3 separate regions of the Homo sapiens genome follow, and regions 1 and 3 are each linked to region 2. Evidence: fine-mapped expression QTL. A gene starts in region 2. Each other region holds a variant in brackets. All regions are shown on one strand. Distances are between the middles of the regions.

Region 1 (4,137 bases), 31 kb after region 2:
GCCAGCCAGGAAGTTTAAATAATATCTAATCCTTCCCAAGCAGGGAGAGAGGGAGTAGGAAGTTTGGTGCTCCTAAGATAAAACAGGAGTTGTCACCACCCAAGTGGGGAAGGAGAATTTGAAAGGACAATACACTTCATAGGCATGAAACGTTTACCTAGGGCTAGCTTGGTTTAGCTTTTAACTCAGCACAGGGAGCAAAAGAGCAAAAGTGGTTATTTTTCTTTTCCTTTTTTTTTTTTTTTTTCTTTTTGCGACAGGGTCTTGCTCTATCACCCAGGCTGGAGTGCGGAGGTGCAGTCTCGGCTAACTGCAGCCTCCACCCCCCAGGCTCAAGTGACAATCCTCCCCCCGTCAGCCTCCTGAATAGCTGGGACCACAGGCGCACACCACCATTCCCAGCTATTTTTTTGTATTTTTAGTAGAGATGGGGTCTCACCATGTTGCCCAGGCTGGTCTTGAACTCTAGAGCTCAAAATCAATCTGCCTGCCTGGGGTGCCCAAAGCGCTGGAATTATAGGTGTGAGCCACAGTGCCCGGCCATGTTTTTTTCTTTACTTAGCAGAGAAATACTCAGGGTTTTCATGTTTTTTGCTCAAACTTTGTAAAGGAGCTTCATTCTTGGGAGATTTGCTAATGAGGCTGTAGTCTGTTGAGTAAATCTCTCCCTCACTGTCCCTTCTCTTTTCTGTAGAAACTTTGTCTAGAGCTCTCTCCCAATTTGCTTGACTATGACCATATTAACAGACGGTAATTGAGAGGTTGTAGGTCCCTCCCTCATCATGGTTGGGAAGGGCAATGGAAGAGAATGGTGTGTGCAAGGAATTTGAAGATCTGTATTTGAGAACTCAATTTCTTACTCAATGGAAATGGAGTATAGCTAGTACCATGCAGAAACTCTCTTGTGTTTTTTTGACATCTGCAATTTTTTAACTGTTGGAAACCACTGAATGATGCCTTTTATTTTTCTTCAGGTAATTCTTTCAACCAAGATAATCTAAAAGTCCCTTAAATGACTTGTTATGGAACTTCTTGAGGTGGAAGATAGTTTTTTAAGACCTTGACACTGCCATTGTGACACTTTCCCTGCACTGGGGCATCAAAGGCTGGTGACACGGGGCATGAGGCCGCCTGCCCACTCACTGCTGCCTCCCTCCCTGCTCTTGCCTCCCCACTGGGCAGGGGGTTTGGCTTCAAAGGAACTGGCTTCCTCCAGTTCCTGCCCTGTGCATTTTCTCATAGTTGCCAAAGAGGCCTACTGTTTTAAATATTGTAGAGACAGCTATGCCTACTATAATTGCTAAGGATTATGTGGGGGCAGGCTATTTGGATATCACAACTACCTAACACAAAGAGTGTGTTACTTTGAAGTTTTCATTGATTTTTTTTCCTCACCTATACTGGCATTCATTTCTATAGTGCTTTGCAGTTTGTGATATCTTTACACACACTTTATTGGTGCCGCTTACTCTTTTTTTTTTTTTTTTTTTTTTTGAGACAGAGTCTCACTCTGTCACCCAGGCTGGAGTGCAGTGGCAC[A/G]ATCTCGGCTCACTGCAACCTCCACCTCCTGGGTTCAAGTGATTCTCCTGCCTCAGCCTCCCAAGTAGCTGGGACTACAAGCATGCCTCACCATGCCCGGCTAATTTTTGTGTTTTTAGTAGAGACGGAGTTTCACCATATTGGCCAGGCTGGTCTTGAATTCCTGACCTCAGGTGATCCGCCTGCCTCTTCCTCCCAAAGTACTGGGACTACAGGCGTGAGCCAATGTGCCTGGCCGATGCTTCTGACTCTTGAGGTAAGAGGGCAGTTGAGTAAGTTGAGTAAGTAGAGGTCTCAGCCAGGAGGGTGCCTTGCCAGGAGTCTCACAGGCAGCAAATGGCAGATTCTGAGCAAAACTCGGGCCCTTTGACTTTCAAGACCATTACATCATATTGCCTTCTTCTTGGCTTCTCTACTTCTTTGTGGTAATTTTCCTGAATGTGTGTCATTGTCTTAATTCCTACAGAGAGTTAGTATTGTCTGGACCCTGGAAAGTGCATTCCTGTTCTCAGCTGCTCTCAGAACTTTGTCCCCAACTCCATCTGTAATTTTTCTGCCCTTACCCCCATCACTTCCACTCAAGCCCCAATGGATAGATTTCCTGGGAGCCCCAAAATGCTCTGTGAATGGACTTGAGTGAGATAAAAGACATTTTCTCCCAGACTTGAAATTCACTTTCCCCAATCCTATTCATATATGCAGTCCCTACCAAAAACCATTAACATGTTCTGCAAGATGAAGCATATTCAGGTACATTTCATAAGTTCTTTTTCACCAATCACATTCTATAACTTAAAAAAAAAACCCTCTATCCTTAGTGCCTTCGATATTTTATGCTATTTCTACCTTCGTTGATTTTTTTGTATATGCATAACCATCTTATACCTGCTGAGAGGGCCTGATCATTCTAAAAGTATACACAAGGGAGTGGTTTAGAGGTTCCACCCCTAGGAAGTACACCTGTACAGGTAAAGCCTCCATTGTTCCATTGATAATTGTTAAGATTTAAATAAAATTATCAAACCTTGTGTGCCCATGTGTGGAGTGTGAGTGTGTGTGTGTGTGTGTGTGTGTGTGAGAGAGAGAGAGAGAGAATGAGAGAGAGATGTGGGGGCTTGGAGCAGAGGTTGGTGAAGGGTGGGACATAATAATAAACTAAGTGCTTGCTCTGTATCAGTTTCCTTGATATAACCTCCTGATTGGCATCTCTTATAGACCGATGCACACTGTACGTATCTTACTGAATCCTCCCAGTCCTGTGTGAGGAGAGACCAGTTTTTCTGAAGCAGGCTCCAAGAAGCTAAGTGACTTGTCAAAGAGCTGGGATTTGGAGCCAAGTACTTTGACTCCAGAGTTCATGTTCTTAACCACTTCATGGTGATGGATAAATAAATACACCTACACCAGGAAGGAATAAATACATCCTATTTCCTAGAGGAAATAAGGATTGGAAGACTAACTTGGAGAGTGTCAATGCTCTTCAGCCAAAACCCCCCAGGAACACATTGCAGATAAATTAATTGGGTTAGAGTTGATCAAAGGGTACAAAATTTCAGTTGGAGGAATAAATTCAAGAGCTCTATTTTGAAAAAAATTGGGATTGTGACTAGTTGCAATCGTTGCAGTGAGTGAGAACACACCATGGGGGATCCATGAAGCAACTCAGTAGAAGGAAGTTAGAATTATTACAGCATTTGGGCTTTGGTTGGGTCATTTGGGGAGGGTCCAAGAAAGGGTTTGCTCTGTTGGATATTATCAGAAAGCAGGGGCAAGTCCATGGTTGTTTATTTCAATAAGTTTTATTTGTAGGGAGGGAGACTAGCAAGAGAATAAAGCTGTAATTGGGAAGACATAGCAGTCACTAATTTTAGCCAAGAAAGCAGGTGTTTGGTTTTTTGTGGGTGGCACAGTGACCTTGTTTTTGTCTATGCATAGACAAAATTATGCAGTGGCCTTGGCTTGCCTCGTTTTGTCATGGTCTCAGAGTGACCCTATGAGGCTGGTATTCTGTGAGATTGTTTATGTCTAACAGGAGAATAGTTGAGCCTAGTTGTGAGTGCCTCACCAGCATCTGTTGCTCTGTAGTTCTTTTTCAAGAGGAACTCAGGGTAGAAACCACTAGAAAGTAGGGCATGACAGTACCATTTCTCCAAACTCCAGGATTTGACTATTTGTGTCTTAACAATGTGGAGTGGGGGCGTGTGCTGGGGGAAGGGTTGGTTGGAGAAGTGTATGGGATCTCTGTTTCTCGGCAAGGCTGCCTTTCTCTACAATGTTTCTGGATCCCTTTACGGGATCTGGCCACTTGAGCCTTATAATACAATAGCAAACTCAGTAGTCTATAGCTACCCTTCTTTGGGGTTCTTCTTTGATTCAGTCTCACTTATACAGGCTGAGAAGGATCTGGAAGAGACACTAGAGGAAATACTAGACCCAGAAGGAGAAAGGAAATTGTTCCATCAATAGAAATGAGAAACCAGCTTAGTTTCTAATTCCTCAACCACAACACAGGTTGTCAGATTGGTTGGGGTGGGGGTGTGAGATTGAGAGGAGGTTAGATTTTCAAGTTCACATGACTAGTATTCCTTTTATGGGTAG
Region 2 (4,137 bases):
GCAGCTGCCCGGCGGAGGGGCTCCTCACTTCTCAGACAGGGCGGCCAGTCAGAGACGCTCCTCACCTCCCAGACGGGGTGGCGGCGGGGCAGAGACACTCCTCAGTTCCTAGACGGGTCGCCGCCGGGCAGAGGCATTCTTCACCTCTCAGACGGGGTGGTGGGGCAGAGGCGCTCCCCACATCCCAGATGATGGGCGGCCAGGCAGAGACGCTCCTCACTTCCTAGACGGGGTGGCGGCCGGGAAGAAGCGCTCCTCACTTTCCAGACTGGGCGGCTGGGCAGAGGGGCTCCCCACATCCCAGATGATGGGCGGCCAGGCAGAGACGCTCCTCACTTCCTATACGGCGTGGCAGCAGGGCAGAGGCTGCAATCTCGGCACTTTGGGAGGCCAAGGCAGGCGGCTGGGAGGTGGAGGTTGTAGCGATCCGAGATCAAGCCACTGCACTCCAGCCTGGGCAACATTGAGCACTGAGTGAGCGAGACTCCGTCTGCAATCCCGGCACCTCGGGAGGCCGAGGCTGGCAGACCACTCGCGGTCAGGAGCTGGAGACCAGCCCGGCCAACTCGGCGAAACCCCGTCTCCACCAAAAAATACGAAAACCAGTCAGGTGTGGCGGTGCGCGCCTGCAATCCCAGGCACTCGGCAGGCTGAGGCAGGGGAATCAGGCAGGGAGGCTGCCGTGAGCCGAGATGGCGGCAGTACAGTCCAGCCTCGGCTCGGCATCAGAGGGAGACCATGCAAAGGGGAGACGAGGACCGTGCAAAGGGGGGAGGGAGATGGGGAGGGAGACAGAGAGGGGGAGGGGGAGGGGAAAAGCTGAGTGATTCTTGCAAAAGGTATATATTATGCTTCCAGGCATCATATGCTCAAGACCTGGGGACTATGTGGGTATAAGTAACTGATTGTATAACGCCACTGGATGAAATCCAGTAATGTCCTTTTTCACTAAATGTGGTTATACACCCTTACAGCATGTTACAAAGGGAACACAAAAAAATAAGTTTCACACTGGACCTTGTTCAGGAGCAGTGTTGACCTATTTCACTGACCTATCCTCAACTGCCACTAGGTGGCCCTCTTTTCCAGCTTCCAAGGGCCTACATTGGGCCTATGCGGCCTCAGTATAGCCTCAGATTTCCTGCTATGAAGCTTAATGAGCCCAGCACTGGCTCTAGCTATGGTTTGTTCCTTTTTGGGTGGAGTGGATGTGTGGTTCTTGGAGAATCTACTACTTTCCCGTGAGTGCAGTGGGAGACTGCATTAGAGAATCTAGCTATCCTGACTGCCTAAACAGAGCCTACCATAATTTTTCACTCAAATCTTTAGTGTAAATATAATTGTCTTTGCTTTCTGTAATAATATCTTTGAAGAAATACGGATTTAAAAAAATCATTTAATATTCTCAGACCTGCAACATGGGAAAAATATTATTATTATTATTATCATTTTTGCAGTTGAGAGGGCTGAAATCTCGCAGGGTGATTAAGTTTATTAGCCTCTCTAAAGTCTCAGTTTCCCACTCTGTAAAATGGAAGGGTCCCTATCTCTTTCCTACTGCTTTGTGAGTATTTAAGGGGATGGAATTTGGGAAGCGCTCAGCACCCAGTCTACTATTGGCACAGGGTTTTAAAGCCACCCAGAGGCCGAGGCGTCAACCCTCCGTTTCCCTCCCGGTGCTCCTTCCAGCGCCCGGTGTGGTCGATTTGGCGGGGGTGGAGCGCCAGGCGCGTGCAGAGCCGGGCGGACCAGCCTCTCCGGCCAAGGCGGGAGGCGGAGCTCGTACTCAAGAGCCGCCTCCCGGGCGGCTGGGGCGGTCCCCGAGCTGCTTTCCGCGTTCTCCCCTCTCCGCGGGCAGTGCTAGCTCGCCGCGGCCGCCTCCGGGGTGAGTACGCTGGCTCCGCCGGCGCCCGGGAAATGCAGTTCCCTGGACACGGGCGCCGTGCGAGGGTAGCCGGGCGACGGCCGGGGTCAGTCCCAGGGCTGTAGCGGGGCGGGCGTGGGGATGACGTGGCGGCGTCCGTGGGGCAGTCCCGCCTCAGCCGGAGCGGTGGGCCGGGCCGGGGGCCTACGGAGGCCGAGCCTGGCGGGAGGCACCGGCTCAGGTGCTGGCGTTCCGCGCGGCGCCGCCTCTGCTGCGGGCCGGGGGAGCCAGACGAGGTGCTGCCGGGTAGGAAAAAATCCAGGGCTCATTCATACCCCAGGTCACGATTCCGGGGTCGCCCCCAGCACTTCTCCGCCGGGTGCATCAACCTGAAAAAGCCCCTTCTTCCTGGAAACCCTCCTTCTCCAGCGTTTCAACGGGGAAACTGATCAGCTGACACCAGCCCCAGTCCTGCGAGGGGCCGGCGACCTTTGACCTTTCTCCAAAGGGGTTGGTCACCTGGATTATAAAAGACTTCGGAGACAGCCATCCAGTGTTTGTTGATCTGTATCCCTTGATGTTCTGTCTTCCATTAGATAAGGGCTGTTAATTCTTGGTTTGAAAAAAAACAGACAAAGTCCAAAGGACTCTGCATCGAGGAGAGGCCTATGGGTTGGTAGCCTTAGGAGAGTAGTTATCAACAGTGGGTGGGTGTGCACACTGTTGCAAAGTGTTCCAGAGTGGGTGAGGGATGGGGACGTGGCGGTGGTGAGGGTACTGGTAGACCTCCTCAGCCGTTTGGTGATGAAAAGGAGGAAAAAGAAAATGGTAATCTGAGCGTGGAGGCGAGTTGTGGCTTTTTTTTTTTTTTTTAAATTTTTAAAGAAAGGAAAATAACACCTTTAAGATGCAAGAAAATCAAGGAGAGATCAGGATGAATAGGATTCAGGGTCCGGATTGAGAAACTGGGATTCAGAAGGGAGGGCTATTCCCGAGACCCAGGCGGGGAGTGCTGGAAGGTCTCTCTTGGGAGAGGAGATAATGCTTGATTGGATATAGTTCAGAAGTTTTTGGAATTTTGTCTTCTAGAGCAGGTTTGTTCTTTATGGAAATTGTAAACCCCATGAAATTGCAATAACTTTCGTCTACCTATAGCTTTGATCAGATTGAAAACATACGTTGTGAAAAAGTACTGACCTGGATTGAACTGTTTGACTACATAATCTAAGGGGAAGTGGATAGAGAGGGCAATAAAATCAGCTCTGTGGTTGTAGTTTATATGCCACTTAATATAATAAGTATTTAGTATCTACTTTAAGCCGAGCTAATAGTAATGCCTGCCTTTTCCAGAGATGCATGCAAATGTTTTGGGAACTAACCTTCTCTTTGAAGATCTTTTATTCAGTGGAAACATCCAAAGCAAATCAGTGATGGTTTTCTATTCTTTGTTTTAAGCCATCAGTGAACAGTGGTTTCTAAAACCTGGCTGTGTGACTCAGAGTTACCTAGGTTCTCGATAAAAATATAATTTTTTTTTTTTTTTTTGAGATGGAATCTGGCTCTGTGGCCCAGGCTGGAGTGCAGTGGCACAATCTTGGCTCACTGCAACCTACACCTCTCAGGTTCAAGCAATTCTCCTACCTCAGCCTCCCGAGTAGCTGGGACTACAGGCCCAGGCCACTACTCCCGGCTAATTTTTGTATTTTTAGTAGTGATGGGGTTTCACCATGTTGTCCAGGCTGGTCTGGAACTCCTGACCCCAAGTGATCCATTTGCCTCCCAAAGTGCTGGGATTACAGATGTGTACCATGGGCCCAGGCAAAAATATCAATTTCTTGACTCCACTTCAGGCCTTTGAAATAAAAATCTCTGGGGCTGGAGCCTGGGAATAGGCATTTCAAACACAGACCACAGTGTTCTCTGGCACTGAAGATTACTAACAGCCTCTGAAGTTTTTCTTTGAGATTGGGGCTTTTTGGCCTATTTAGAACAGGTTTTCTTAAAGGTTATATGAATGAATTGTCAAACTTATGTAACTAAAAGTTATAATTCCTGTCTGTGATGTTATCTTTAAATTTTAATGTACAGTCGTCCTCCTTATTCTTGGGGGATATGTTGCAAGACTGACAGTGGATGCCTGAAACCGTGGATAGTGCCAAACCCTATATACGCTGTTTTTTTCTATATATGCATACATATCTATACTAAAGTATAACTTATAAGTTAGGCACAGTAAGAGATGAATAATATCTAATAATAGAACAGTTACAATA
Region 3 (4,137 bases), 38 kb after region 2:
GCCCAGCCCACACTTTTAATTAATGGAGAATTGAGGCTACTAAACACATACTTCAAGGTATGAAAGGAAATTTGAACCACTGTTAAGAATTATTCTGGAGAATAAAAGGATCTGAAGGTGGCATCAAGAGAATCACCCATCTCCATATATGGGAGCTACTCTAGAAAGAAATGCAAAAGGTATATTTCAGTAATCTTTTCCCAACTTCTCTGTTCCCCTGACAATACTGAGATCAACAGAAGCATTGGAAGGTTTCTTTTAGATAATAGTGAGAGATACAGGCAGATTGCTAGCCAAATACAGCTCTGGGTTACTGTGATAACACAGGTTCCTTCGAATGTATTTATTTTCCCAAATTAAAAATAAGCAGGGATGGAAGTAGTTATTATGCATTTTTCAAATTCTCCTTTCAACAGTCTATATAAATGTTGCAGAATGCTAGACTAGGATGAAAAGTAGGAGTCATGAGAACTGCAGAAGCCTGAGATCCTAAAGGAAGTCCGTACCATCTGACTTGGCAATGTAAGACACACACGTTAGTGTGGGGCACAAACGTGGAATATTAGGAGAGAGCTGGTTCCAGCACCAAATCCAGAGTCACTCGGGGAAGGAGGTATGGTGGCAACACTTTATGCTTAATATTCAATTCTGCTCCAGTAGAACATGGTACCCAGGAGAACCCAAAACTGGAATAGAAAAAAACAAGGAAAAATAAACAAGGGATTGTTTTAGAAACATCTCATTCTTGGAAAAAGTGGATGTTAGGTTCATTCAGGCTTAGGTGACAACAGATTTTTTTGTTTGTTTGTTTTTATTTCTTCTAAAAAACCAAAACAAAAACAGGATACATGTACAGAACGTGCAGGTTTGTTACACAGATGTACGTGTGCCATGGTGGTTTGCTGCACCTGTTGACCCATCCTCTAAGTTCCCTTCTCCTCACTCCTCACCCCTCAGCAGGCCCTGGTGTGTGTTGTTCCCCTCCCTTTGTCCATGTGTTCTCATTGTTCAACTCCCACTTATGAGAGGGAACATGCAGTGTCTGGCTTCCTGTTCCTGTGTTAGTTTGCTGAGGATGATGACTTCCAGCTTCATCCATGTCCCTGCAAAAACATGATCTCATTCCTTTTTATGGCTGCATAGTATTCCATAGTGTGCATGGACCACATTTTCTTTATCCAGTCTATTGCTGATGGGCATTTGGGTTGGTTCCATGTCTTTGTTAGATATCAGATTTTTTTTTTTTTTTTTTTTTTTTTTTTGAGACGGAGTTTCGCTCTGTCGCCCAGGCTGGAGTGCAGTGGCGCGATCTTGACTCACTGCAAGCTCCGCCTCCCGGGTTCACGCCATTCTCCTGCCTCAGCCTCCTGTGTAGCTGGGACTACAGGCACGCGCCACCATGCCCGGCTAATTTTTGTATTTTTAGTAGAGACGGGGTTTCACCGTGTTAGCCAGGATGGTCTCGATCTCCTGACCTCGTGATTTGCCCGTCTCGGCCTCCCAAAGTGCTGGGATTACAGGCGTGAGCCACCACGCCTGGCCTAGATATCAGATTTTTAAGAGTAATCTCGTTATAAGCAACATCACTGGGCCAGATGTGACACCAAATCCATCCTGCTCCAAAGCATCACTTATTACCTGCCACTCAGAAGCAACTTCTGTGTTCCCCACGTTCTGATCCCAGTTCTCATCCTAGATTCCTTGTCTTCTGGGGTTGCCCTTCTCGTCTGTGCTAAACTCTTTTTGCCATCAAGGCCACTTATCCTCCAATGCCTTCCTGTTTCTAGTATGTACCATTTCGGGGTAAGCATTCCTTGCTTCTAGTATTAAACTTCTCCCAGGGAACTTCTATTTTTTCCTAAAATGCTTGTG[C/A]CCTGGAATGGCTGCCTCTGAAGAATGCCACAGAACTCAAGATATCTGACTTAGGCAAGGGCTGAGTTTTATTTTAGTTTATTTGGGCTCTGTTTTAGATCTGGTACTTACTCCTGGGTAACTTTAGCCAAGTCACTTAAATTTCCTGAGCTTCAGTTTCTACATTTATAAAATAAATATAACATCTCTACCTACCCCAAGCTAGAGCAGTGAATGAGATAATGAAATAATAACAGGGTCTAATGTTTATTAGAATACCTTATTATGCATCACTCACTATTCTAAGTGTTACCCATATAACTGAAGTTAATGCTTCCAAAACCCTATGGAGAAACGGAGGCACAGAGAAGTAACTTACCCAAGGTCATAGAACTAGTAGGTGGTGGAGGTGGGATTCAAACCCAAGCAGTCAGCTTCAGAGCTTATCTAGTTAATCACTAAGAAAAAGCCCCTTGCAAGCAACAGTGAAATGGGCATGCTTAAGAGCTCTTATTAAGCACAATTCTTGAGAGCCCCACTGAATTTCTCTGCTCCTTGTAAGACAGGACACTGGCTACCTGCTTAGCTACTGTTGTGGGGATTTAATATTAAAAATATTTGACATGGTACCTTGTTTATAGCAGGCCCTCAATACATTTAATCATTTAATTCCCTTCCCTTCCCTTCCCTCTTTTGAATTTCAAGAGGGAATTAACTAGATCTAGAGTTTATTTGATACTTGTGGAAAATCAAGGGTTACAACTGGTTTGGAGTTCTAAGATACTCAAAGCCTTTAAACATTATCCCACAGTTCCTGCTAATATGGCACAAATAGAAACTTCACTGTTACCTTTCATTCATTCAACAAATGCTTGAGCCCTTACTACATGCTATGCTTGGCACTGGGGGTACAAAGAACAGCTAGTTCTCAGCTTTTTGCAGTCAAATACATCATCATGGAGAAGTTCCATCATAGAGGTGTGCTCAGGATGTTGTGAGAGCTCCTAACAGGTTGGGTTGAGGGATCATAAAAGACCCCTTGAAGGAGTTGATTTCCCTCTCCTTCCTGCCTCACTCAGTTTATCACCCCCTAAGCTAGCATTTCTTAAAGCATAGTGATATGGTTTAGCTGTGTCCCCACTCAAATCTCATCTTGAATTGTAGCTCCTATAATCCCCACATGTCATGGGAGGGACTCGATGGGAAATAATTGAATCATGCGACCGGGTTTTTTTCTGTGCCGTTCTCGTGATAGGGAATAAGTCTCATGAGATCTGATGGCTTTATAAAGGGCAGTTCCCCTGCACACGCTGTGTTGCCTGCCGTCATGTAAGACATGCCTTTGCTCCTACTTCGCCTTCTGCCATGATTGTGAGTCCTCCCCAGCCATGTGGAACTGTAAGTCTATTAAACCTCTTTTGCTTTATAAATTATGCAGTTTTGGGTATTTCTTCATAGCACTATGAAAATGGACTAATACACATAGTAAACACCTGAGGGACAGTTCAGAAGTCCATTATGTAAGGCTATCTGAATAACAATGAGAATTTATTTGCCTTTTTCACTGTTTTCATATTTGCACTGATGGTGTAAATGCAGTGGGAAGTAAAACTCCTGGAGTATTAGCAAGAATCAAGGCAGAGTCACTAAACTTTGTTAGTGATCATTGTGTCTTCACTGCTACGCACTTGCAGTAAAAAAAAAAAATTTAAAAAGCCAGTTTCACTTGAGATTGTCCTCAATGAAGCAGTAAGAACTACTAATTTTATTACATTTTGGCCTTTGAGTACACATCTTTTTAAATATTCTGCATGACAGAAAGGAAGTATTCATTCATAAAACAGTCTGTTGCATAGTGTAATATGGTTGTCTTAAAAGCACTTGCATGATTAAAAGGAAACACCACTTTTACTTTAAAAAATGATGAACAGACACGCTATGGTTGTTTGGACTTGGACATGTGGCAGATATTTTCTTGAAAATTTACAAAGTGAGTCTGTCACTTCAAGGAAAACAACTGACAATATTCATTGCCAATGATAAATTTGAACTTTCAAGCAAAAATCAGAACCTTGGAAAACTTGTAGTTGTCACCGTGAACTTGATAGCATTCCATTGCTTAAGGTATTTTCCATGTGGCAATATCAATGCCACATGTGATTTTCTGGATATTGCATACATAAATCAGTTAACATTTGGAAGATCTGCATAACACAATGAACTAATATTTTTTCCAAATAAGCAATCTATGATGTTATAGAATTATAAATGGCTGAAAGATATATG

The links. PIP is the estimated chance that this variant, and not a neighbour inherited with it, causes the effect.
Region 1: its variant is the best candidate, but not a certain one, in a credible set for the expression of B4GALT4 in T cells (TOPMed, PIP 0.84).
Region 3: its variant is the best candidate, but not a certain one, in a credible set for the expression of B4GALT4 in monocytes (BLUEPRINT, PIP 0.59).

The regions. Positions count from the first base shown.
Region 1 is chr3:119,207,281-119,211,417 of GRCh38, reverse strand. No RefSeq gene overlaps it. Among named protein-coding and RNA genes, the nearest start is that of B4GALT4-AS1, 17 kb to the left of the region's middle. RefSeq lists an enhancer at 4,020-4,137. The variant A/G (reference allele first, on the strand shown) is at 1,540.
Region 2 is chr3:119,238,598-119,242,734 of GRCh38, reverse strand. It overlaps B4GALT4 (beta-1,4-galactosyltransferase 4), which reads left to right and starts at 1,857. Exons shown (of 8, transcript NM_003778.4): 1 at 1,857-1,885. All of the region lies in intron 3 of B4GALT4-AS1 (B4GALT4 antisense RNA 1), which reads right to left. RefSeq lists silencers at 991-1,040, 1,691-2,170.
Region 3 is chr3:119,200,466-119,204,602 of GRCh38, reverse strand. It overlaps UPK1B (uroplakin 1B), which reads right to left. Exons shown (of 8, transcript NM_006952.4): 8 at 1-686. The coding sequence ends at 636. Among named protein-coding and RNA genes, the nearest start is that of B4GALT4-AS1, 24 kb to the left of the region's middle. The variant C/A (reference allele first, on the strand shown) is at 1,873.